5 separate regions of the Homo sapiens genome follow, and regions 2, 3, 4 and 5 are each linked to region 1. Evidence: fine-mapped expression QTL. A gene starts in region 1. Each other region holds a variant in brackets. All regions are shown on one strand. Distances are from middle to middle.

Evidence for each region. PIP is the estimated chance that this variant, and not a neighbour inherited with it, causes the effect. A credible set is the group of variants that fine-mapping cannot tell apart.
Region 2: its variant is the best candidate, but not a certain one, in a credible set for the expression of TXNL4B in sun-exposed skin (GTEx, PIP 0.73).
Region 3: its variant is the best candidate, but not a certain one, in a credible set for the expression of TXNL4B in blood mononuclear cells (TOPMed, PIP 0.72).
Region 4: its variant is the best candidate, but not a certain one, in a credible set for the expression of TXNL4B in uterus (GTEx, PIP 0.90).
Region 5: its variant is the best candidate, but not a certain one, in a credible set for the expression of TXNL4B in minor salivary gland (GTEx, PIP 0.81).

Annotation. Positions count from the first base shown.
Region 1 is chr16:72,090,626-72,095,802 of GRCh38, reverse strand. TXNL4B (thioredoxin like 4B) reads left to right here and starts at 2,183. Exons shown (of 4, transcript NM_017853.3): 1 at 2,183-2,436; 2 at 5,017-5,177. The coding sequence starts at 5,054. It overlaps DHX38 (DEAH-box helicase 38), which reads right to left and starts at 1,956. Exons shown (of 27, transcript NM_014003.4): 1 at 1,752-1,956. RefSeq lists enhancers at 1,661-1,960, 2,021-2,070, 2,081-2,410.
Region 2 is chr16:72,150,675-72,155,674 of GRCh38, reverse strand. It overlaps PMFBP1 (polyamine modulated factor 1 binding protein 1), which reads left to right. Exons shown (of 21, transcript NM_031293.3): 4 at 1,216-1,464; 5 at 4,846-5,000. Among named protein-coding and RNA genes, the nearest start is that of PMFBP1, 19 kb to the left of the region's middle. The variant C/T (reference allele first, on the strand shown) is at 2,057.
Region 3 is chr16:72,173,899-72,179,075 of GRCh38, reverse strand. It overlaps a transcript of PMFBP1 not described here. Among named protein-coding and RNA genes, the nearest start is that of PMFBP1, 4.3 kb to the right of the region's middle. The variant C/A (reference allele first, on the strand shown) is at 2,074.
Region 4 is chr16:71,992,717-71,997,716 of GRCh38, reverse strand. PKD1L3 (polycystin 1 like 3, transient receptor potential channel interacting) reads left to right here. Exons shown (of 30, transcript NM_181536.2): 3 at 4,385-4,501. Among named protein-coding and RNA genes, the nearest start is that of PKD1L3, 5.2 kb to the left of the region's middle. The variant G/A (reference allele first, on the strand shown) is at 1,912.
Region 5 is chr16:72,224,327-72,229,503 of GRCh38, reverse strand. It overlaps a transcript of PMFBP1 not described here. Among named protein-coding and RNA genes, the nearest start is that of PMFBP1, 55 kb to the right of the region's middle. RefSeq lists an enhancer at 5,091-5,177. The variant A/T (reference allele first, on the strand shown) is at 1,988.

The sequences.
Region 1 (5,177 bases):
TAACAGGGATGTAGGGAAAACACCACTAAATTTGAATCAGAAACCTCAATTAGAAACCAGGCTCTTGACACTTTCTACCTGTATGATGGTAAGCAAATAACTTAATCTTTGTTTAGCCATAATTTCATATCTATTAAATGGAAAAAATTTTTACCTTATCTAATCCATGAAGCTATTGTGAGAATCAAACAAAAAGTGTATGTGAAACCATAAAGAGTAGCTCTTTATGTAACCATAACAGTTAACATAAATGTAACTGCTACATTGTATTATTTGCTATCCTCCTATATACTGTTGGTCCCTCACCCATTTTTTTACATGAGTTCTACCTCTTCCTCTCTTTAAACAACAGGTACAGCAGCACAGAGATGGGGCAGAAGGCTACCGTCCATGTTCTCCATACTTTAGTGGCTTTTCTTGGCCTAGCTGCGTTTTACAGAAAACAATTTACTCACAGCAGCCAAAATCAGTTTAATAACAATCCATGTTCACCAAAAATATTTATGAGAAACACCAGGTTAGGAAAAGGTGTTACTGAGAAGTATTTAAGTGGCTACAAGACTTCTGGCACTCAAGTTGGAACAAGCTCCTCTTTACCTCTCACTACACATCTGCCACTCATCAACATATATCAGTTCTGGATGCTTGGATAATTCCTCTCATTCCAACAAGTTAGCAAAGCAAAGGAGATGCCACCAGAATCCAGAATTGTTTACCAAACTCTAATTAAATGCACAGCTCTACAGAGTATTGCCAAACAGACTGGACACATAATATTAATGCAGAAACAAGAGTTACATTTTGAAAATGCCATCAGGCAGAACAGAAAAAAAGAAAGCTGCATATTGGTGACATCTGTGCGCATGTGAGGAAATCCACACAAGAAGGTAAAGATATACAGGCTCTACTCAATAGTTGTCTAAACTAGGAAAGGTACCCTGGACTGCCATTCTACGCAGTTGAGAGAACACTGGATGTGTTGTTGACTGCTGTAGCTCAATGTCTAGCAAAATAAGCGTTTGATAAATTAAAAAATGAATTAATTTAAACTTATTAAAGGAGGACAGGAACCCAAACATTTCTGGAGACAGCAAGGGAAGATTCCAGCAACACAGGACAAGGAGACAGCCAGAGAGAACTTCATTAGCTGCTGAGACGAACAAATAAGGAGCTAAAGAGCAAGATTCTTGAGAAGGATTAATGGCAAAGAAACTACAAGGCGTACGAGAAAGCCAGGGAAGAAAGAACCTGGATTCATTCATTCAACAATTATTCACTGAGGGTGTCCCTGAGCCAATTGCTGTTCTCGGCGATAGCAACAGAGAACAAGACAAAAATCCCCGCCCACCTGGAGCTGACATTCTAGTAGAAGAGATCGCCCACCAGATTGCCTGGTATAAATGACACTGTGAGAGAGCAGAGGAAGACACAAGGAGTCCTACTCGGGCTCGGTGACAGTCTGGGGTGGGTTAAAGCGGAGGCCTGGGAGAGGGACCAAGGCCACTCCAGGCAGCATCCCTGGATCTCAGCGAGGCCGCTCCAGGCAGCAGGATTTGACCAGAGCAAGGAGGAAGGCCAAGGCGGCCAGGACGGATGCAGCATCCCTGAGGTGAGTAAGGCAAGGTGGGTGACAGGGACGACAGAGGAACTCCCCAAACTGGGGCCCGGACCTGAGCAGGGGACCAATATCCGCCGCCTAGAGCCGCCATGATTACAGAAGGGCAGGCCAGGAAGGAAGAAGGGACTCTCACCTCACCAAGCGCGACTCTTGGGACCCTTCTGTCCCGGATTCTGGGGCGCCGGCGCTGCCACCCCTCGCTCAGACAGGCTCAAGGAGCCAAAATCCACACCTTGAAAGCGGCCATTATTGTCCCTTAATACTTTGCGCGCCCCCTCTATCCGCCCAAAGCTACCATAGAGAGCAGCCTGGAACACGCCCGATTCCTGGATCCAAGTGTGGAACGGTACGCCAACAGGCTCTCAAGGCCTCCTCTGGGGCTCTGATCAGACACTTCCGAGTCTCCTTGTGACCAATCACTCTTAGCCTAAGAGACTACATCCCGCCTCTAGTCTGGGGGCAGGAAAAGGAGGGGAAAAAGGTCGACCATCTTTAATACGGGCGGAGGTGACGCCTAGCTTCCGGTCAGAGCCGAGCAAGGTGGGCGGTGACTAGAAGCTCTTCCGTTTATTGGGCTGTTGAGCGGGGGCCGACCGACGGCCAGGAGTTTCTTTTCTGCGCTTGTGCGTTTTCTGTTCGGTTTCCTTCCCGCTAGCGGGGCCACGAGGGTTGCTAGGCAACAGCCCCTGGGTGACTTGGTCTTAGGGTCCTGTCCGGCTTGGGGCTGATGAAAGGAGCTGTCCGCGCCCGGGCTCTTCCGAGAAGTGGTTGCTGACAGCCACAAAGTGAAAGGGAGTGAGGCGGCGTGGACGAGTAAGGTAAGTGCTGGGGTCCCTTAGCGCTTGTGGGCCAGGAGCAGCGCAACACAGGTGACTTTAAATATGTATATCGGATATTTTGGAAAATGGAGATGCGCGCCCGGCTGTAAATAAAAATCACCCATGCGTTCACACGCAGAGATGACCACTGATTTCCAGTTGTTTTTCTGGAATACATTGTAGTAAGATTCTGTACAAAAGTGAGTTCAAGCTTTTTTTCTTTTTTTGGTGTTTCTGCAGTTGTGGCGCGCGCCTGAGGTTCCAGCTACTCGGGAGGCTGAGGCGGGAGGATTGCTTGAGCCTGGGGAGTTGAGACCAGCCTGGGCAACATAGCGAAACCCCGCCTCAGAAAAAGAGAGGGAGAGAGGAAAGCAGTGGAGTTATTGGTCAAAGAGTATGTCAGTTTTCTTTCCAGAAAGGTTTTGTGTCTGCATTCCAGCAGGAACTCCCTGTGCCTGCCCCTACCACTATCTTGTTTAATTTTTGCCAATTCAGTGACTTTGTAAACATATGTTTTAATTTGCTTTTCTTTGCTTACTGGTAAAGCTTAACTTTTTAGTTTATTTACTGTCCATTTGTACGTCTTCTTTTGGGAATTCTCTGTGGGTATCATTTACTATGGACATTTTCTTAGATGTGGTCTCAGTTTTCCTCTCCTGCTTCCAACGTTTGTCCAGTTGCACCCCTAGCCTCACCACTAACAACTTTGTTCTCCCCTTACTTTCTCCTTTCGATCAGTAACACGGAGGAACTGCTGTTTGTTTGAATTCTAGTGGGACAGATCCGTCTTCTCTTTGACCTTCCCTTTCATTGGTAATTTGTTCTGCTGCTCACATCTGATGACGTCCCTTTGGGCCATCAATGTCCCTGTTTAAAGTATGACCTATAGCTGGAACAATCTTATTTCCTATGTGAATTTTAGTTAAATAATTCCTTTTTTTTTTTTTGGAGACGGAGCTTCGCTCTTGTTGCCTTGCCCAGGCTGGAGTGCAGTGGAGCGATCCTAGCTCACTGCAACCTCCGCCTCCAGGGTTCAAGCAATTCTCCTGCCTCAGCCTCCTGAGTAGCTTGGATTACAGGTGGCATCTGCCACCACGCCCGGCTAATTTTTTGTATTTTTAGTAGAGACGGGGTTTCACCATGTTGGCCAGGCTGGTCTCGAATTCCTGGCCATAGGTGATCCACCCTCCTTGGCCTCCCAAAGTGCTGGGATTACAGGGGTGAGCCTGGCCTAATTCGTATCTTAAAATGTGACTTGTGACAAAAAAAATAGGAAAAGAAATCCTCCCTTTTCATATTTGGAACTGAATTCAAAATACCGACCATCTCAATGGAGTCTCTTATAGATGACCACAAAACTAAGCTTCTTTGTCAAAGAGTTTCTCAAAAATGAAATTTCTACCAATCATGAAAATAGATTATTGTAGTAGAAGGACCCCTGGACTAGAAATTTGGTGGCCTGTATTCTAGTCCTTGTCATTGTAGTAGAAAGTGCAACTGTAAGCAAGCTAGTTTGTAAAATGACGGGGTTGTATTAGGTCCCTTGTACCTCAGTATTTTATTATTTGTTTATGGTATTGTAGTTTTCACACACACTCTTAATTGATCTGTTTGCCGTGTAATGAGGTGCACCTAGTAAGGTGCACACGAAGAATCTTTAAGCCAGGACTTGTAATAATATAAAGTATACAATAAAGGACTGTTTAAAAAGTGTAACACATGCAAGAAATAATATGCTGCCATGACAGAGAATATGGATGTTCTCTATATAGAGATATGGGGCAATCTTCATAGGTTAGGTTTGAAATAATGAAAAGTGCTGAAGAGTAGATAAAGTGTGTGTGCTGAACATCTGCCATTGGTCCCTCCACAGCCATTCTTCATCCTCCTCTAGACTGCTCTGGGACAGGGAGGTTTGCCTGCCTCAACAGGCCCCTGCCCTCTGGTTCCAGTTGGAGTCAGCCGGTGGTTGCATGAGCAAAGGTCAGAGGGAGGGAGGAGAGTGGCTGCAACACCTAACAGCAGGCTGCCCTCCTATACACTGTCCTCTCCACTCACCTCTTTCTGCCACACAATTCTTATAACTGCTTCCTACCGTGGCTTCTTCCTCCCATGGCCTAGGGATGGGTACAGCATCCCGCTGTTACTAGCCCCAAAGTAGTACACTTTACCGTATTGTTTTTCTACACCTGCCTTAATTAAACTGCCTTCAAATTACCAAAGTTGAGAGTGTCATCGCTTTCCTGCTGGAACACTGATACAATAGGCTATCTTTTGGGGGTGGGGAGAGAGAGAAAAAAAATATCGGAACGCATATTTGTATTTTTTGGTGAATGCATAACAAAACTCTGAAAGATACATGAGAAACTAATGAAAGCAGTTATCTGGCCCGGGGGAGGGAACAATGAAAACTGGTTCCAAGGAGCAGGGACAAAGAGAGGGAAACTCCACAGTGTTACCTTTCTATGATGTTTCTTTCATACCATGTGAATACATTAGCTACTCTGTGAATTAATTTTTTTTAATGAGGGCTCACGCACTTAATCTAAACTGTCTTTAAACATTGCACCTTTATTTCAGGAGTGACAGTGAGGATTCACATTTGGGTTATTTCAAGATGAGCTTCCTACTGCCCAAGCTGACTAGCAAAAAGGAAGTAGACCAGGCGATAAAAAGTACTGCTGAGAAGGTGTTGGTTCTCAGGTTTGGGAGAGATGAAGATCCTGTCTGTCTGCAGCTAG
Region 2 (5,000 bases), 60 kb before region 1:
AAAATTTGAAAGCCACGGTATTAGAAGTACTCTGTTAATGAGGCCAAGGCCACAAGCTCAACCCCTCGGGAGCCAATGAGATTGCTTGGACGCTATTTTCATTTCTTTCATTCAATTCATAGGTATGTATGAATCTGTAAACTAGGCCCCATAAGAGCAAACATGGCCCTGCCCTCCAGGAGTTTATAATCTAATTAGAAGTTAAAATGCACAGAAATAATTACAGACAGAATACAGAATAGCACATTAAGGACATGCTAGCAAAGTCTGTGGTACTGGTGCAAAGACAGCTTTGCAGGGAAAAAACAGGAAGGAGAGCAGGATTTAAACAGAAACTTAAAGAATGTGTAGGAGGATAATAAGCAGGGTTGGATGCTAAGGACTGCCCAGAGGCTACCCTCTTTATCCACCTTAACCTCACGTGTCATTGTCATAAGGGATGCTGGAAAATATAGGAAATATAGAAGCATCAGCAACTCAGGGATGTGTCCTACCAGCAGAATACCTGGTAAAACATAGGTGCTTAGCCTGTGTCTGTTGAGTGAATGAATGAATGAATGAAAATGAAGGATGAGCCTAGCAGCATTTCAGATAGATTGTGGATTAGCAAGAAGAGATCACACCACACACACACATACACACACACACACGCACACAGAGTCAGCATCCGCAAGGTCACATCTTCCTTCAGGAGAAGGAGACAGAGTCAGTGCCCAGATGTACCTGAACAATATCTCTGGCTCTCATTTTTCAGCGTTTCAAAATCCCCAAGAATTCACCCTTGACTCATTGCAATGCTCCTTTACCCAGGTGTTTTTAATACCAAGTTTAGTCCAAGAACCAAGGCCAGAAATCCATTTCCTTCCAAGTCACTAGTGTTATCTTTATATGGGAAGGCAACACCTCAGCATATTATTACACATATCTCCCTAGGTCCTTTATGTGTATATTTTTTCTTCTGACCTAAATAATAAGATTTTGGTAGATAAGAACCATTTTTTTTCTTCTACTGAATTCTTCTTACTGAGTGGGAATACTAAGTGATACATTTCCTTGTGAATAGAGTGAAATGTTTAATAAGATCTCTGTAGATGAAAAGATAAAAAGATGGATAGATGGATGTGAATGACTGAACAAATGAAAAAAAAATCCTGGAATGAATACGTCCTTAGTGATGATCTAAAGCCTTTTTTGTATATCCTGTCTCTATGGTAGGACAAGAAGCAAGCACAGGCATTAGCATTCGAGGAGTCAGAGGTGGAATTTGGGTCCAGTAAACAGTGTCATCTGAGACAACTCCAGCAACTGAAGAAAAAATTGCTGGTCCTTCAACAAGAACTGGAGTTTCACACAGAGGAGTTGCAGACTTCTTACTATTCTCTCCGCCAGTATCAGTCCATCCTAGAGAAGCAGACTTCCGACCTGGTTCTTCTGCACCATCACTGCAAACTGAAAGAAGATGAGGTATAGACAGATTAACCATGGAAATAACCCACATTCTTAGGTACCTGCAGAAATCAGACCAAGCCCACTAGAAAGCAGACGCTGGACTTAGGAGAGCTTTGCAACATCCCGAGCAGGTTTTATAAACCTTCCCCCTTTAATTCTTGATCTTTTTGAAGCTGAGCAGAAGGAAACTAAACTGAATGGCATAACTCGGTGAAAGCTGCAGTATTCATGCATGTGGAATATGTGGAGTGTGTGTGCAGGCATGTGTGTGTGTGTGTGTGTGTGTGTGTGTGTGTGTGTGTGTATAAGTCCATCTTCTCCATTCTATTACCATTGCAATGTAAATGCAAAAGACTGTAGGTCTCTGAGGGTTATCAAAGAGGTATAAGGTCCATTAAATCCACCATTTTTAGAAAAATAAGGTCTTGATAATATATAAATTCCTGGCACGTGCACACTAGATAAGATAACCAGATGTTGAGTGGGAGTCAATCATTGAGAGTACCAGGTAATTTTTTCAGACTGGAGTTTTAGATCATATAGGCTTCACTTAGGTATATTCAGGACATTAATTCCCATTCATGTTCCAGGGTGGTATTTTCTAAGC[C/T]GAAGAGTACCACCCCTTTAGAATCCCAAGTAAATTCCAAAAACCCAAAGCTGCAGCACTAAAACCACTTGAGCAGTGATAGCACTAGGTGCAGTAAACCATGGGTTCTAAATGATGGGACAGACGTACTCTTCCATCCTGGGGTTTCCCCTGGCATTTTCTTTCTTTAGATTTAAAGATAAAATTTCAAGGAGTTAGGTTCTATTGGAAGGACGGAGAAGAAAAAAAAATTTCAAAGAGTGTTTTGGATGGTGCTGTTGCTTAAGGACTAACTTCAAGGACTTTAGGTAGGACCTTACAGACCATAGACTTTTTAAAAAGGGAATATTGTCACCTAGTGAAAATCTGCTCAAAAGAATTAAGAGTGGGAGGAACAGAGAAAGGTTATTCTAATCCTACAAATATAATCTATGACTTAGCCTGTGCACATACACATAGTTTTAAAAAGATAGTGCAGGGCTGTGTTAAAACTTAGTGGTTCACTACAACTTAAACAAAAGGGTCCAGCCTGGATAAAGTGACCCTGAATGAGTTGGGATTCTATTTAGCAGCATATAACAGAAAATAAATAAGCTAGTTGATTTCTGTGTCATATTTAAAAAGGTCAGAGACAGGTGGTCTGTTGCTGTTATGGCAACTGTGTGTGTCATCAGGTCTAAGGGTCTATCCTTGGGTTCCACCAGCATCAGCTCAGGGCTTCCATTCTCTAAGTCACCTGAGGTGCCTGCTGGAGCTTCAGCCGTCACATCCTTTTTTTTTTTTTTTTTTTTTTTTGAGACGAAGTCTCAATCTGTCGCCCAGGCTGGGATGCATTGGCCCGATCTTGGCTCTCTGCAACCTCCGCCTCCCAAGTTCAAGTGACTCTCCTGCCACAGCCTCCTGAGTAGCTGGGATTACAGGCACGCACCACCACACCCGGCTAATTTTTGTATTTTTAGTAGAGACGGGGTTTCACCATGTTGGCCAGGCTGGTCTTGAACTCCTGACCTCGGGTGATCCGCCCATCTTGGCCTCCCAAAGTGCTGGGGTTACAGGCATGAGTCACCATACCAGGCCACATCCTTGTTCCAAATAATCCAGATAAAAGGGCAGAGGACCAGGTGACAAGGGTGGAAAGGAAAGGCACACTCCCTTCCTTTTAAGGACACTTTCCGGAAGCCACAACACCTTCACTTAAATATCCCTGGCCAGAATTAGTCACATGGCAACAGCTAGTTTCTAGGAAGCCTAGGAAATGTGGTGTTTTAGGAGGTGCATTGCTGCCCCCAGTAGAGTCAAGGTTCTATTAGTAAGGAAGAGCGGGAGAATACATACAGGACTCGGCAAATAACAGTCACTGTCAAAGATCCCAAACCGAGAAAGCATTGAGAGAATTATTTTAGACATTCTGCCAAGTTCCCCCAATGTCTTGTTGCACAGCCTCATCAAACATCTGTCTAAGGTTGGGTTCACTCAACAGCAGACCCTAAGACAAGGATATAAATTCAAGTAACTAATTCCGGAGGTGATTCCTGCATGCACATGAGCAAGTGAGTCAAAGAAGGACCGGAAGCCCATAAAGGACACTGGTATTGAGTAGATTGCTTGCTTGGTCCCTCTGGGGAACTCTGGGAGATAGTGTAGAACATGCCTCAGAGTGAACCCACCAACATACCCCCAGTCATTGGTTGAGGGCTGCTCCTGAGGGCGTTAACCCCCCAGCACTTCTAACCTACCCTGTCTTGCCTCTCTGGTTGAATGGGCTCCTGGTATTAGAGAAGCCCTCAGGCAGAGTTGAATATGCTTGCAGTGGGAATGGGGTTAACTTGCAAAGAAATAGCAAGTGCCCAGGGGATATGGGCTGGCCACTGACAGCTTTGGTTACAAATATTTGGATATAAAATATTCCTCTCTTCTTCCCCTTACGTAGTAGACACCTTACACAAAGTTATCCTTTCCTAAGAAGAATCTCAAATGACAGACAGCAAGTATAATGAGCTTAAACTAATGGAACATGTTCTATCAGCATTCTACATTGGATTATTTAAACTAATATAAAGCCATCCTTCATGACTCTTCTGCTGTTAACTCCTTCAACACATCAAATTCGAGCCATACAATTTAGCACACTCAACTACCTACAGCTGTTTATTCATTTTAAATCTTATGTCCCCAAGATTGTGAAAGTTTTAAACTCTTTGAGGGGTGAGCATATGTCTAATATGTATATATCCCCTCTGCACTTAACACAATGCTCGTGAGCTTTCAATAAATATCTGTCAGTTTGTTGACTAATTACTTGATGAGGAAGAAAATAAATCTAAACAAGGATTGTGCAAATCCCAGAGGAACTTTGGGTCATGTTCCCCACCTATCTCTTGGGAACTTTCCTGACATAGTCCTGTGTGCAGGAGGAAGTCTGCATTTTCTAAGTTCAACCTCTAGAGAATGCCTGGGAAGGAAAAAATACCAGCATTTCAAGCCCTTAAAAAACAGAGCTATACAAATTCATTCCTATTAATCAACTAGCAAGTATTCATTGAGTTTCTGCCACATGCTGGGCAGAATGGGAAATGGATATGATCCTGCCTTGAAGGAGCTTACCTCTAACTAGGGCCACCTTTTTTTGTTTCCAATCATTAGCATCTTGATATTACATACTGTAGCTTTTAGATCTGTGCAGCCTCTCTTCTGTTCATCTGGTCTTCTGGTTCAGATACAAGACTTCTCTGCAGGGAATCTTACAACCGCATCCTTTCCTCATTACGTGCTTCCATGGGCTCAATGTGGATTTATTCCTACACCTACAGGTGATTCTCTATGAGGAGGAAATGGGAAATCACAACGAGAACACAGGGGAGAAGCTCCATTTGGCGCAGGAGCAACTCGCCTTGGCCGGGGACAAGATCGCCTCTCTAGAGAGGAGCTTAAACCTCTACAGGGATAAATACCAGTCTTCCCTGAG
Region 3 (5,177 bases), 83 kb before region 1:
GGGAGAGAAGATAAAGGAATTTGGAAAATCTTTTCTTAAGACAAGAGTCTTGTTGCATAGTGCCAGCCCAGGGCAACTCAAGAAGCAGAGTCTATGTTGGAGAGTTTATGGTGGAGAGGGCAAAGAAAAAATGCCCATTAAAATTGTCTGAATATTACCCCATTACATTATTTATTTAATCCCCATAACCACCCTGTAAGGTAGGTATTATTGTTCCAGTTGTTTCCAAATGGGGAAACTGAGACTCAGAGAAGTTAACTTGAGTCAAAATGTGAGCCCTGACTCCATGAAGAAGTGGCTGAGGCAGGGAAAAGTATAAGATGAACCTGGAGCATCTCGTACCCAAAAGTAAGAATGTGCTTAAGAATGGGTATTGTTGAAAGGGCTCAGGAGCCAACCTTTGGCCCATTGGCCAAAGCTGGAACATTTGAGCAACAAAATAAATAACAGTATTAGATTATAGCCCATATAATAGATATCCATGAGTTCATAGTGATGTAAACAATACATTAATTAAATGGGTGAGAAAGAGCAGCTCTTTCTTACAGAAGAGTTCCAGCGAATAAATGTAGAAGAAATAAAGGAAAAAGAAGACCCCCATTAGAATACTACTGTAACAATTATTGCAAGTGAGATCCACCTTGCTAAAGATAGCAGGTGACAGTTTGAAGAAAAACAGGATATTTGTATACTCTTAAAGTATCTCCCTTAATATATTTATTAATTATAGTGGGGAAAAATAATAACTTTATAGTAGATAAACCCAGTAGACACCAGCATAACCAGGTGACCAAGGTCAACATCATCAGGGATAAGATGCATTGATATCATGTATCCCTGACATGATACACTAAGAAGGTGTATGACACACTTGCCCAAAATGCATAGCCTCAATCTCAGCACAGAGAAACATCAGGCACTTTGGGAGACCGAAGCAGCCAGATCGCTTGAGCTCAGGAGTTTGAGACTAGCCTTGGCAACATGGTGAAAACCTGTCTCTACAAAAAAATACAAAAATTAGCCAGGCTTGGTGGTGAGTGCCTGTAGTCCCAGCTACTTGGGAGGCTGAGGTGGGAGGATTGCTTGAGCCTGGGAAGTCGAGGCTGCAGTGTGCCATGTTCACACCACTGCACTCCAGCCTGGGCAACAAAGTAAGACTCTTTCTCAAAAAGAAAAAAAAATCAGGCAAATTCAAATTGAGGGGCATTCTATGAATTAACTTTCCAGTACTGTTTAAAAGTGTCCAAGTCACGGAAGACAAGGAAAGACTGAGGAATTATCATAGATTAGTGGAGTCTAAAGATATAAAACAACTAAATGCAATGTGGAATACTGAATCAGATCCTAGAACAGAAAAAGGACATTAGTGAAAAAACTGGTGACATCCTAACAAAGTATGCAGTTTTGTCCATAGTTTTGGACCCATGTTAATTTCTTAGTTTTGATCATCGTATCATCATGTAAGATGTTAATATTGGGGAAACTGGGGAAAGGGTATACAGGAACTCTGTGTACTATTTTTGCAACTTTTCTGGAAATCTAAAATTATTTCAAAAAGGTCTGTGTGTTCCTGTTCTTTCACCAGAATAGATCACTTCTACCTTTGGGGAGAGACAAAGCAAATCACAAACAACCATAATAAAGGCAGATCATTGTGTTAAAAGAGGTATGGGAAAAGGGCTGTAAGGGGGAAAGGGTACACACCTGGCAAGGCTGCTGTGAGGATTAGCTCTGTTATTTTATGTTCAGAACACTGCCTGGCATATAGTAGCTGCCATACAAGAGTTAATGTGACATGTAGTTTAGGGAAGTTGAAAGAAATGGCAATTGGGTTGGGTCTTGAAGATGTGTGACTTTGGACAGGCAGAAAGAATATATCTCGTAAAGAAAGAAAGAGCAACCAATTGGGAGAATTTTCTCCATGTCAGTCAATGATAATGGCAACAAAGATTAGGTGGACTGTGTACTTCAAAATGGGAAATTTTCCAAAATGGCATGGGAGTAATAGTGGTGGCAGTAGGAAGGCTGAAATGTTCCTCTCTCCCTGACCCTGGCTGTTTCTACTCCATACAG[C/A]AAATAGAGAAGGAGAAAGTGAACACAAAGAACTGACATCTCAAGAGAAAACCAAGGCAAGTCGAGAAAGGGAAGGGGCATTTGAGAAACATATCTGTGGAATCGCTGAAGAGCTGGTCCACCATGAAACAGGGGTTCCAAAATGTAGAGTATAAGCAACTAGTGGAGGTGCTAGAAACGGTGAGTGAACTGTAGAGAGAGATCTCTGAGAGTAACTTAAATAAGTGTGTTTTGTCAGTGTCAGCTTGCATTAGATTCAGGTGTATGAAACAGAAAAATTAAAAACAAAATCATTACTTAAGCAAGATAGAAATTGCTCCTTCTATCCAGGGCTGGCAATGATAGTTCCATAGCATTAAGGCCTCATGTTCCAGATGGCTGGTGGAACACCAGGCATTAAGTCAGCATTACAAGCCATTAGAAAGGTGGGAAGAACAAAGAGCTGTGCACTACTTCTCTTTCAGAAGATTTCATGGAAGTCCCCACAATACTCCATTTTATGTCTCATTGACCAAAACTTAGACACATAATCATACCTAGCTGCAAGAGAGGCTAGGAGATAGAGTCTTTTAGATGAGTGCATGCACATCCCAATAAAATGAGCATCTGTTACTAAGGAAAATAAAGAGTATGGATGTTGGAACAGACAACAAACAGCCTCTGTGAAAGGTAGCAAAGAAGAGAGCCAGGGGGAGACATTTTCACCTAGGACAGTGAGTCTCATAAATCCTGGATTCCTTCTCCTGCTCCTCCTGGCCCCTAATTTCTTCTGTCATTCAAAAGCCTCTTTCTGGAGAGACCCAACTAGCCCTACTTTCTCTCCAGAAGAACTCCAGTCCTGGAATTGGACTGTGGCTCAGTCAGTGACATTGGTGTCAGGTTCCTATTCACTGTTACTCTGCAGAACCCCAAACCCTGGCAAAACCATCTCCAACATCATCTCCTCATACCATCTCCCCCTACCAGTTATGCTCTGCACTACCAGGGATTTTCTCCTTTAGAACCGGGTTTGGATTCAAAAAGGCGAACTCTCTGCATGCCAAGCCTCTGCACACCAAGCCTCTGCACATTGGCTCCAATCATACTTTCTGGGTAGAAATAATTAGTATACAATAAGTATCCCTGTCTGTTCATGGGGCTCACACATTTTTAAAAATAGAGAAAACCTTTAGCTCCCTCTCATCATTTCAATAATTAAGAGCTCTAAGATTCATCACACTTTTTTCACTGGTAGGAGGTAGAACATTGGAGAAAAATCTAAAGCCCAACATAAGTAAAGGAAAGACTTATGGCTTAGTATAGGTAAGCCTGAGTTAGTTTGTATTATCCCACAAAGATAGCTTTAATTTTAAACCAAAAAAGCATCTCTTTCCTGAAAACCCGGAAACATGTTTTAGATTAGGAAAAACAGACCCTTGATATTCTTCCATCCAGGCCATGAAGGAAAAGGAATAGTCGGTGTTCCTTGGAGCAACAAGGTTGCTGTAAGGCCAGGAGTCAACCATATACCCAGGCACTTACCAGTTCCTTGGGGAGGGAGTCAAAATTAGCAGTCTGTGATTACGGCATTTGTGTAACCCAATGTGGGCAGGTGGTATGTGAAGTACTAACTGATGTGTTTCACATCCTGGCCTGCTAAAACTGCATTTCAGAGAACTTGTTCACTTATGCCCCTTTTCCTTCCTCTCTCCAAAACCACACAAAGACTGTTTGAGTTAGGAAAGAGGAGGAATAGGGTAACTGGAACATAAGCAGGAGAATTAGACCCTGGTGAGATCTATGAGATGGGGCAGAAGGGAGGGAAAACAATAGATTCCCAGATAGGTTTAGTGATCGAAGGGCAGAGGGACTTTTGATCAAAACCAGGAAAGTGAGCATTCTGTCCTCTTTCTCTCAATACCTTTCAAGGTAAAAGATAGAATGCTGATAGGACAAGTCTAAGAGACAGTCTGAATCTACTCTCATGTGGTGTGTGTGTATGTATGTGTGGTATGTGTGTGCATGTGTTTGTGTCTTGATGGGGAACAGGGAGGAGCATCTTCAAAGGATGAGGAAGTGCCAGATGACCCAAAGCCCTTAGGATGAGGAAGACACAGGATATAAGGTGATATGGTTTGGCTGTGTCATCTTGAATTGTAATCCCACAATCCCCATGTGTTGTGATAGGGAGCTGGTGGGAGGTAATTGAATCATGGGGTGTTTTCCCCCATGCTGTTCTCGTGATAGTGAATGAGTTCTCACGAGATCTGATGGTTTTATAAGTGTCTGGCATTTGCCATGCTGGCACTCATTCTCTCTCCTGCCACCTTGTGAAGAGGTGCTGTCTGCCAAGATTGTAAGTTTCCTGAGGCCTCCCCAGCCATGCAGAACTATGAGTCAATTAAACCTCTTTTCTTTATAAATTACCCAGTTTCGGGTATTTCCATATAACAATGTGAGAACAGACTAATACTAGTACATGTGGCCTACTGACCAGGACAGTGACACCTCGGCATACTCTAGCTAGGAGAGATGCCCATGACCATGGACCACAAGCTTCCCCTGGTGCCAGGATCCAAACTGGGACCTCAAAATCTTAAGCACACTCTGGAGACGCCTTAAAGAGGTTGAGAGAATCATGAACTGTGAGGGAATCATGAACTGATTCATTTTTAACCTGAAAGTCGTGGTGCTTTCTCAGAAATAACTAAGATTGTGTTTTCTGCCATTTGGTGAAAATGGGGCTAAACAAAAACACTGAGTAATAGAAAGAGTTACTTTCTCTTTTTGCACACCTGACTTGATACTTGCTACCTTAGTCACCCATTTGAGGTGTGGTGTTAGGTGTTTCTTGGGAATCTGCAAGGTGCTCTGATAGTAGACTGAGGGAAGGCACAAAACATCACTAGAAGCTCTGACCAAGTTTTTGTTTTCACTACAATCATTTCTTTAGGCACAGCTGTCACCAAGAGAAGTCCTACTTTGAAAAGCAGATGGCAGGAGTTTTGAATACAAAAAAGGAGTTGCCTGGGCAGATGGCAGTAGACAAGGCATGAAGAAATGAAGGTCTCAACAGAGACGCAAGAGGCAGAACAGAATATGTAAGAACAAGGGTTCAAGAAGAG
Region 4 (5,000 bases), 98 kb after region 1:
GAGTGCAATGGCACAATCTCGGCTCACCACAAGCTCCGCCTCCCGGGTTCCAGTGATTCTCCTGCCTCAGCCTCCCTAGTAGCTGGGATTACAGGCATGTGCCACCATGCCCGGCTAATTTTGTATTTTTAGTAGAGATGGGGTTTCTCCATGTTGGTCAGGCCAGTCTCGAACTCCCAACCTCAGATGATCCGCCTGCCTTGGCCTCCCAAAGTGTTGGGATTACAGGCATGAGCCACTGCGCCCAGCCTATTTATTTTTTTATGTGGAGACGGTGGAGTGGGGAGTGGTTGTGGGGGGGGGGGTCTTGTTATGTTGTCCAGGCTGGTCTCGAACTCCTGGACTCAAGCAATCCTCCCACCTCGGCCTCTCAAAGTGCTAGGATTACAGGAATGAGCCACCGTGCCCGGCCTTGGTGATTTCTTAAAAAAAAAACAACTACCATACAACTGAGCAATTGCTGGGCATTTATCGCAGAATGAGAAAACCTGTGCTCACGTAAAACTATGTATATGGATGCTTATAGCAGCTTTATTCATAACAGAACAAAACTGGAAACAATTCAGATGTCTGTCAACAGGTGAATGATTAAACCACTGTGGTCTAGCCATAGCAGTCATACTGTTTCCACTCTCCCGGGTGACTCTTTCCCACTTTCCTCTCTCTACTTAACCTCCAACAACTGGGAGCCTCCCTCAGTCTCATTCTTAGGTCAGGTGATAACCTCGCTTTCTAACTCAAGGAGAAAAAAAAAAAAAAAAAAAATCAAAGCAATTTGGAGTCCGTCCAAGGCTCGGACCACCAAATCTACCCACCTACCAGCACCTGTACCTGTAGAGAGATAATGCCTTCTCTCATGCTGCTACAAACCTTCATACTCCTACCCAAAGTGAATCCCTCTGGTTGTTGAATTGGATTCCATGGAGTCCAATTCAGTAATAAAAAGAAACAAACTATTGATACACACAGCAATCTCCAGAGAATTGTGCCAAGTGAACAAAGCCAATCTCAAAATGTTACGTACTCTATGGTGCCATTTATTGAGCATTCTTGAAATGATAACATGATAGAAATGGAGAACAGATTAGTGGTTGTCGGGGTCTAAGAAGGGCATGGGGGCAGGAAGGAAGTAGGCGTCGCTATAAAAGGACAATGTGGGCCAGGCACAGTGGCTCATGCCTGTAATCCCAGCACTTTGGGAGGCCAAGGCGGGTGGATCACGAGGTAAAGAGATTGAGACCATCCTGGCCAACATGGTGAAACCCCAGTCTCTACTAAAAATACAAAAATTAGCCAGGCGTGGTGGTGTGCACCTGTAGTCCCAGGTACTCAGGAGGCTGAGGCAGGAGAATCGCTTGAACCGGGAGGCGGAGGTTGCAGTCAGCCAAGATTGCGCCACTGCACTCTAGCCTGGTGACAGAGCAAGACTCCGTCTCAGAAAAAAAAAAAAAAAAAAAAAAAAAGGCGGGGGAGGTGGGTCAATGTGAGGGATTCTTATAGCAATTGAAAAAAAATTTTGACATGACTGTATCAGCGTCCATATCCTGTTGTTACCCTTGCAAGATGTTACCCTTGGAAACTGGATAAAGGCATCTCTCTGCATTTTCTCTTACATCGGCATGTGAATATACAATTATCTCAAAATAATAAGTTACATTTTTTAAAAAAAAGAAAAATGCACTGATGTAAGTATACACATCACTTACACAGTATTTTTGCCAAAAAAAATAGCGTAATGCAAATTAAAAATAAACTGAGATACCCTTTCCCACCTATCAGATTGGCATAAATCCACAAACTTAACAACACTTTCCGTTGGCAAGGCCATAAGAAAATAGGTACTCTCATAAGTTGCTAGTGAGAATGCAGTAAGATATAATCTGTATATATTTATAAATAAAGGGGAATTCA[G/A]CAATATCTAGCAAAATTACATATACATCTACCCTTGACCCAGTGTCCACTGCTAGGAATCTATCCCAAAGTCAAACCAGCAAAAGTACAAAAAGATGCACACGTAAGGCTATTCATTGTAGCTCTCTGTGATAGAAAAAAGTAGGAATAATCCACATGCCCATCAAGAGGGAACTGGTTGTAAAAAGCAAATAACAACAATCTCCATGTACTGCAGTGGGGTTATCTCTATGATGTATTTTTTTAGTGGAAAATAAAGGTACAGAACATATATATTTGCCTGTATACATACACGTACGTATAAATATAACAGAAGGAGAAACAAAAACTAATGAAAATGGTTACCTATGAGGGAGAGAGAAAATAGGGCAGAAAGGATGAAGATGGAAATGAGACCTTTCGAAATGTACCTGGTTTTATAGTTTGGCATTGGAACTCTTTAAATGTTTTCCATAATTATTGCTATGGTTTGAATGTGCCCCTTCCAAAACAGGTGTTGCCAATGTGATCGCATTAAGACGTGGGGCTTTAAGAGGTGGGTTGGCCTACAGGGCTCCTCCCTTGTGAATGGGATTAGGGGCCCTTATAAAAGGACTTGGCAGAGGGAGGGCTTCTCTTGCCTTTTCACCTTACGAGGTTGCAGCCTTCCCCCAACTCCAAGTGCCAGTGCCTTCTTCTTGGACGTCCAGCCTCCAGAACTGTGAGCATTAGATTTCTGTTCTTTATAAATTACCCTGTTTGTGGTAGTCTGTTATAGCAGTGCAAAACAGACTAAAGCAATTATAAAACAAATTTAAGTCAACTGTTTTTTTTTCTTGAGATGGAGTTTTACTCTTGTTGCCCAGGCTGGAGTGTAATGGCGTGATCTTGGCTCACTGCAACCTCCACCTCCTGGGTTCAAGTGATTCTCCTGCCTCAGCCTCCCAAGTAGCTGGGATTATAGGCACTCGGCTAATTTTTGTATTTTTAGTAGAGACGGCGGTTTCACCATCCTGGCCAGGCTGGTCTCGAACTCCTGACCTCAGGTGATACAGTCTCCTCGGCCTCCCTAAGTGCGGGGATTACAGGCATGAGCCACCACACCCAGCCTGTTAACATTGTAAAAAGCAATCCCTAAATGTAGGGAAAAAGAGGGGAGGAGAAGAATTGGAGCTGATAAGTTTGGACAATTTTTAAGGTAATTTTGCTCAAGAGCAGGAAACAGCTGGGGCAATAGTTCATGAGGCCAATATAAGTTGCTGGGTTTTTTTTAAGGCAGAAGAAATAGCATGCAGGAATGATGTACTTAATCTGAGCTACCAAACAACTAGAGGGATTCACTTTGGGTAGGAGTAGGAAGATTTGTAGCAGCATGAGAGAAGGCATTGTCTCGCTACAGGTACAGGTGCTGGTAGACAGCTAGATTTGATGGTCAGAGTCATGGAAGGACTCTAAATTGCTTTGATATTCCCCTTGAGTTAGAAAGCAAGGTTATCACCTGACCTAAGAATGAGACTGAGGGAGGCTCCCAGGTGTTGGAGGTTGAGTAGAGAGAGGGAAGTGGGAGTCACCTGGGAGAGTGGAAACAGTATGACTGCCAGGCAGTATGAAGGCAGGCTGCTCGAGCTTCACGATAGCGAATTTAAGCTGAGCCATAGTCATCATGGTTATATGATTTTCTCTAGCCATGTCCAATTGTGTGTGTGAGAAACTCTTGCTCGTGTATGCAAGGAGGCATGTTCAAGAATGTTATTGCCAGACGGGCGTGGTGGCTCACACCTGTAATCCTAGCACTTTGGGAGGCCAAGGCGGGCACATTACCTGAGGTCAGGAGTTCAAGACCAGCCTGGCCAACATGGTGAAACCTCGTTTCTACTAAAAATAAAAAATTAGGCGTGGTGGCACGTGCCTGTAATCCCAGCTACTCGGGAGGCTGAGGCAGGAGAATCACTTGAACCCAGAAGGTGCAGATTGCAGTGAGCCCAGATCGTGCCATTGCATTCCAGCCTGGGCAACAGAGCAAAAATTGTCTCAAAAAAAAGAATGTTATCATCCACCTTCTGAACTCTTTTATCTCTACCAATGAGAGTTACAGAACTCAAAGGAGAATATTACGCTTAGTATGGAATTTTCCATTTATGCTGGAGGTTGCAAACTTTTTTGGTGAAAAATCAGACCCTGGCGATGACCTTAAGCAGTAGGATGTAAATAACTCCACATGCCTAGTGTTCCAATAATGGAACACTAGGCATAAATGGGTTAATGAACTTCTCAGTGTTGACCCAACTAGTGAACTTAATTTGAAATGTGGGACACCATAATGTGAGCAGAGCAAAAGGGCTACTGCAGAATTCTTAGTGTCCTTAAAAAACTGGATAGGAATTTTTAATTTGTGTTTTCCTGATTATCACATACGTGCATGTAATGATGGTTTTATAGACTTGTAGCCATAGCTATAACCTATAAATTAACTTGTGTGTTGGCTTTCAAATAGGTGACTTTTTGGACGGAGATGCCCATTATGAAAGAAATGGAAATAATTCCCATTTGTACCAGAGACACAAGAAGACAAAAAGAGGAGTTGCAATAGCAAGAGACAAAATGCCCCCAGGTAATGCGTTACTCCTCTAGTAACCTTAAAAATCCGTGGAATCAATTTCTGCTAAAAGAATGCACAAGACTGAATTAATGCTGAAATGTGTTATAACATGTGCCCAATATTCGTTGCATTCTATTCTGTCTGATCTTAATATGGCAGTCTTTGCCTTCATTTTATGTATGTGTTTTCTTGATATGCCCTTGGCCGCCGTCTTTTCATATATTCCCAAATAAAAGACAAGGTTTTATTCCCACAAAATTTTTCATCAACAAAGTAGTCGTCTTAAAGTTCTTGCAAAGTCTTTCAAATTATGGTGTTATCACTTGTTTATTTAATTTTGAAAAACAAGTACTATTTGGGAAGGATGCATTAGCCTGAAATGACGGCAATCAATATCGGTGGATGGGTGGTTATAGAGATCAACTGAAAGAAAGAAGTGAAACAGATCGATTTAAAGTGGATCTCGTGATCACTCTTCGGGGTATGACCTCACAGCTGCAAATGTTAGATG
Region 5 (5,177 bases), 130 kb before region 1:
GGTTGTGGAGAAAAAGGAATGCTTATGCACTGCTGTGGGAATGTAAATTAGTTCAGCCCTTGTGGAAAGCAGTTTGGCAATTTCTCGAAGAACTTAAAACAGAACTACCGTTCAACCCAGCAATCTCGTTACTGGTTACATACCCAAAGGAATATAAATTGTTCTACCATAAAGACACATGCACACTTATGTTCATCACAGCACTATTCACAATAGCAAAGATATGCAATCAACCTAAATGCCCATCAACAGTGGACTGGATTTTAAAAAGTGTGGTACATATATACCATGGAATATTATGCAGCCGTAAATAAGAATGAGATAATATACTTGACAGCAACATGGATGGAGCTAGAGGCCATTATCCTAAGCACACTAACATAGGAACAGAAAACCAAATACTGCATGTTCTCACTTATAAGTGAGAGCTAAACACTGAAAACACATGGACATAAAGAAGGGAACAATAGACATTGGGCTTACTTGAGGCTAGAGGGTGGGAAGAGAATGAGGATCATTCTCTACCAATGGGGTACTGTGCTTATTACGGGTGATAAAATAATCTGTACACCAAAGCCCCATGCCACCCAGTTTACTCATGTAACAATCCTGCACATGTACCCCCGAACCTAAAATAAAGTTGGAAAGTAAAAAAAAAAAAAAAAAGTAATATATAAAGAGTATACAAGAAAAATATTGTACTCATCTGTAGAGAAGTAAGGGAAAAAATATACAAGAAAGAAAAGAAGCCTAAAAGTGGTCATCCTTTTGACCCAGTAATCTGCTTCTGCAAAACTATCCTAAAGAAATAGAGAGGCACCCCAAATTTATTCATAAGTTTGTAGATTTAACAAATAGTTTTGGTGAGCATTTAGCAGTACCAGACGTTATGCTGGGGACTGGGAATACAGCTGTCAATGAGATGCAGTCTGTGTCCTGTAAGAGCTCACAGTTCAGCTCTGTGTTCCCCACAGTGATGGAGAACTTGACCAGGTATCCTAGAAACGGGAGAAGAGTGTCTCAGCAGGCTGGAGCAGGGATGGCTTCCTGGGTGAAGTGATGTGCAGATGGAGTCCATTGTAGGTGTTAGCCTTGGGAAGATGGGAGTTAAGAACATTCCAGGCAAAAGCAACAACATAACAAAATCGTAAGGGAATAAACTGCATCGGGGTCTTTCAGGAACGAGCAGTTTGGAGGTATCGTACACGATACTCAGAACCTTCCTTTCACCCAGTAGGCCAAAATTCCTCCCAGTGTGTTCAGAGTAGCCTTAGCATTCCTCAGAAATGCTTTAGGGGCCTATGTCAACGACGGTGGGAGAAGGGCTGGGAATTGGTCCAGGCTCGAACCCCACCCCTGCCACAACCCAAGTTGCCTGGGAAGTTTTCCTTAAGATGTTTAACAAAAGGCTTCCACTTCTGAAAAGAAAGTTTGAAAACCTTTGATGGGGAGCTACAGATTTCAAGCACAGGAGTAAGCATAACAGATACATATTTCAGGTAGGTTACCATGGGGGCTACGGGGAAGATATTTCACTTGGCGTTTAGGTGTTTACTTATAACTGGAAACAACCTAAATGTCCAATAATAAGAATGTGATAACATAATAACAATAAATAGCTACCATTTATGAAGTGCTCATTGTGTGGGGGCACAATGCTAAGTACATATATATGCCACATCATTTAACCTTGATAGAAACCACATGTGGTGAATATTATCAATATTTTGCAGATGTGAGGACTGAGGCTTAATGAGGATTAGTAGCTGGTTTTGTATCACCTAGCTGTTAGAGGGGTGGGATTGGAATTCTATGCCACGTCTCTCTGACTCTTAAGGGCATACCATTCTGCCTCCTGAGCAATGATAAATCCACATGGAAGAATGTTATACGGCCCTTTGAAATCATATTTTCAAAGACTTTAATAATATGGGGAAATATCAATAGAATAATGTCAATTTTTTTAATTCAAGTACAAAAATATAGA[A/T]TCATCCCAATTTTATTAATCATGCTAAAATGTTAAAAATATTTATCACTAGATGATGAACTGTAGGTAGTTTTAATTTTCTTTCTTACACTTTTCTTCCAAATGTTCTAGAATAAGCATGTGTCCCTTTAATCATTGGAAGCATAACAAAAAGTTATAAAAAGGATTCAAGGTGAATTGCTGTCATCAGTCATTCTCACCCTAGACTCAAGAGGAAGGATCAGCTCTTTAACACATCTTTCAGAATAACAGTGCAGACTATCCTGTGTGCAAAATGTAAGGGGAATCAGCATGCTAATTATTAGCCATATAACCTTGAAGTTAACGTCTCTGAATCTCAGTTTCTTTTCCTATTAAATGCGGACATTAAGCTAAGTAGTCTTTACAATTCCTAAAAACACTAAATTTTATAGGCTTTTTTTTTTCTACAAATGAAATCAGGCAGAGGGGCATAAAAGAAACATATTAAATTCTTCTTGGTTTAGTTACATTTTCATGAGCATTTAGGGAGGGTGGGTTTTTTATTAGGTCTCAGCTATTTGGTAATATGGTAATATGCTCAGATTCATTTGACATCCAAGCAATGCCAGGTACTTTCATAAAATTTTTTCTCATCTCATCTTCGCTAAAACCTTTTTAGGTGAGCATTATTATGCTCATTTTTGCTGATGGAGATCAAGGGGTTAAGGAACTGACAAAAGGTCTCTCTTGACATGTTGTGGCGAGACTGAAATCCAAATGCTTCTTTGCGAATCTCTAGAATATTGTTAGTTCAGATGTGGAATTGTTGTTTGTTTGTTTGTTTGTTTTATCATTTCAACCACCTTATGTACCGGTTATCAAATAAAATACAGTTTCTGCCCTCAAATATTTTTTGTTCTAAGAGAGAGACAAAATTCTTACAAAGAAACAATTCTGAAATTAAAATTAAAAATGATATATAATGGAGACAAATGGAAGCTTTTGGCAATGTGTCTGTATCCTTTAGTGAGAAGCAAATAAAAGGACATTATTATGAAATTGAAATGGGGGCAGAAACAGTCACTTGTCATTAGTGTCAGGGTCATTTTAATGAAAATTAACCCCGGAAATGCTTGACTAAGCAGTGGAAGCCTACGCACCACTTGGACCTTGACAGAACCAGGGCAGTTAAATCTTTCCTACCTGCACATTAGCTTAAGAGAATAAATCAGTCCAAAGCTACTGGCCATGCTAATTGCTCTAATTATTATCACTGGAAAGGCTAGATAATACCTATGAGGTATTGAAAGATAACCACAGCCCAGAATAATCTAGTAACCAAAGAATTCCCAGAGGAATACTCAGACACTGCTCACAAAGCCTGGGCCAGTTGGATTGGATAACAAAGCGTACAAATATGTAGCTTGACAGAGAGGATGGATTCCATAGCATAGGGTATAGTCTTCAGCTGGGGATGACCATGTTCAGTGGGAATAAAGTGCTCATAGGAAGAACTGGGTAGGGAATCTCAGAAAGTAGTGTTTGGTAGCTTAGAGATGCTTTGGCTTCTGAAGACTGTTGCTCAGTGTGTGTGTGTGTGTGTGTGTGTGTGTGTGTGTGTCTGTGAGTGTGCATGCATGTGTGTGTGGATGTACATGCACATGTGATGTCAGGTATAAGAATTAACCAATTTTTCATCTGTGACCTAGATTGATTTCTTCAAATGTGACTACACACCTAGCATCTATGGGCTATGTGAAAAGGATTATGTCGAAATAAGAGCTTCTAGGATTTTGTGAGGCTTTATTATTATTATTATTATTATTATTATTATTATTATTATTATAAACAGTCTCATTCTGTCATCCCGGCTGGAGTGGAGGGGCATGATCATAGCTCACTGTAACCTTGAACTCCCAGGTTCAAGTGATCCTCCCACCTCAGCCTCCTGAGTAGCTGAAACTTTAGGCATGCACCACCACACCTGGCTAGTTTTTTGTTTTGTTTTGTTTTTGTAGAGACCCCGTGTAAAGACATGGGGTCTTGCTGTGTTACCCAGGCTGGTCTTGAATTTCTGGGCTCAAGTGATCCTCCCGCCTTGGCCTCCCTAACTGCTGGGATTATAGGCATAAGCCACTGTGCCGGGCCAGTGGGGTCTATTGACTTCTTTATTTCCCTGCTGTCCTGAGATAAAAGAGTGACCTAAGGTGGTAAGCTTGACCTCGGAGACTAAGTGAAACAGGCATCTTGTGCATGACCAGCATGGATGTGCCTTCTGTGCATCATTTGGGGTGTGGGGAGAGCACATGGTTTCTCCTGCTCAGACATTGCTTCTCTGATAGGCTCTTCTTTCAGGTGCTTAAAGAAGTAACTATTCTGAAGTGTTCTAGTTCTTTGAGGAATGCTGATGTATGGATAAAGTATGGTGGAGCAAAGAACACTGGACCAGAAGTTGGGGAGGTCGCCTTAGCTCCACCACTGTGTCTCACCGTTAAATTCATCTACAGGTACCATTAATTCTTCATTATTAAAGATAGAACTACATGCTTGTTTATATAAGTAACTCAGAACAAAAAATGTGTCAAAACACATAAATTTTATTGTTAGTAGAGTATAACTAAATTTAAGAAGCCCTTAATATGTGCAAAGTACAAATTCTGTGTGGGATACAAACAAGGCCTTGTTCATATCTTTAGGGATCCTGGAATCTCGGGAGGTGACAGACCAGTGCACGTATTGCAACCAATTGAGGTGTAAGAGACAATATGAAATTGCTATGAGCAAGTTGATTCAGTCACTCAACAAGTATTCACAGGCACTGTGTGAACTCTAAAAGCAAATTACTTCTCTCTGAGGCAGGCGAGGCAAGGTCACAGAAGCTTTATGGAACTGAGCATTTGGGCTGGTGTTTGAAGAAGAGGTTAAAATTTGTCAGGCAGAGCAGAAGGGAGGCAGGTGTGACAAAGGTCATGTGGGAGTCAAAGGCGTGGGAAAGTATAGGGTGTGCTTGGGAAATAGTGAGTGGTTGGGTTGGGCAAGAATCAAAAATGTGTAATTAGAAAAGGAGATAGGGAGAGATAGGCCTGAAAAGATCAATTGTGGCCAGATTCCAGGTGACAACGTTGAGAAGCTTGAACTTTATTCTGTAGACATCAAAGTCTTGGGGCACAGAAGTCACGTGGTTTCATCTATGCTGTAAGACAATCTGGCAGTCAACGGAGTAGAGGAG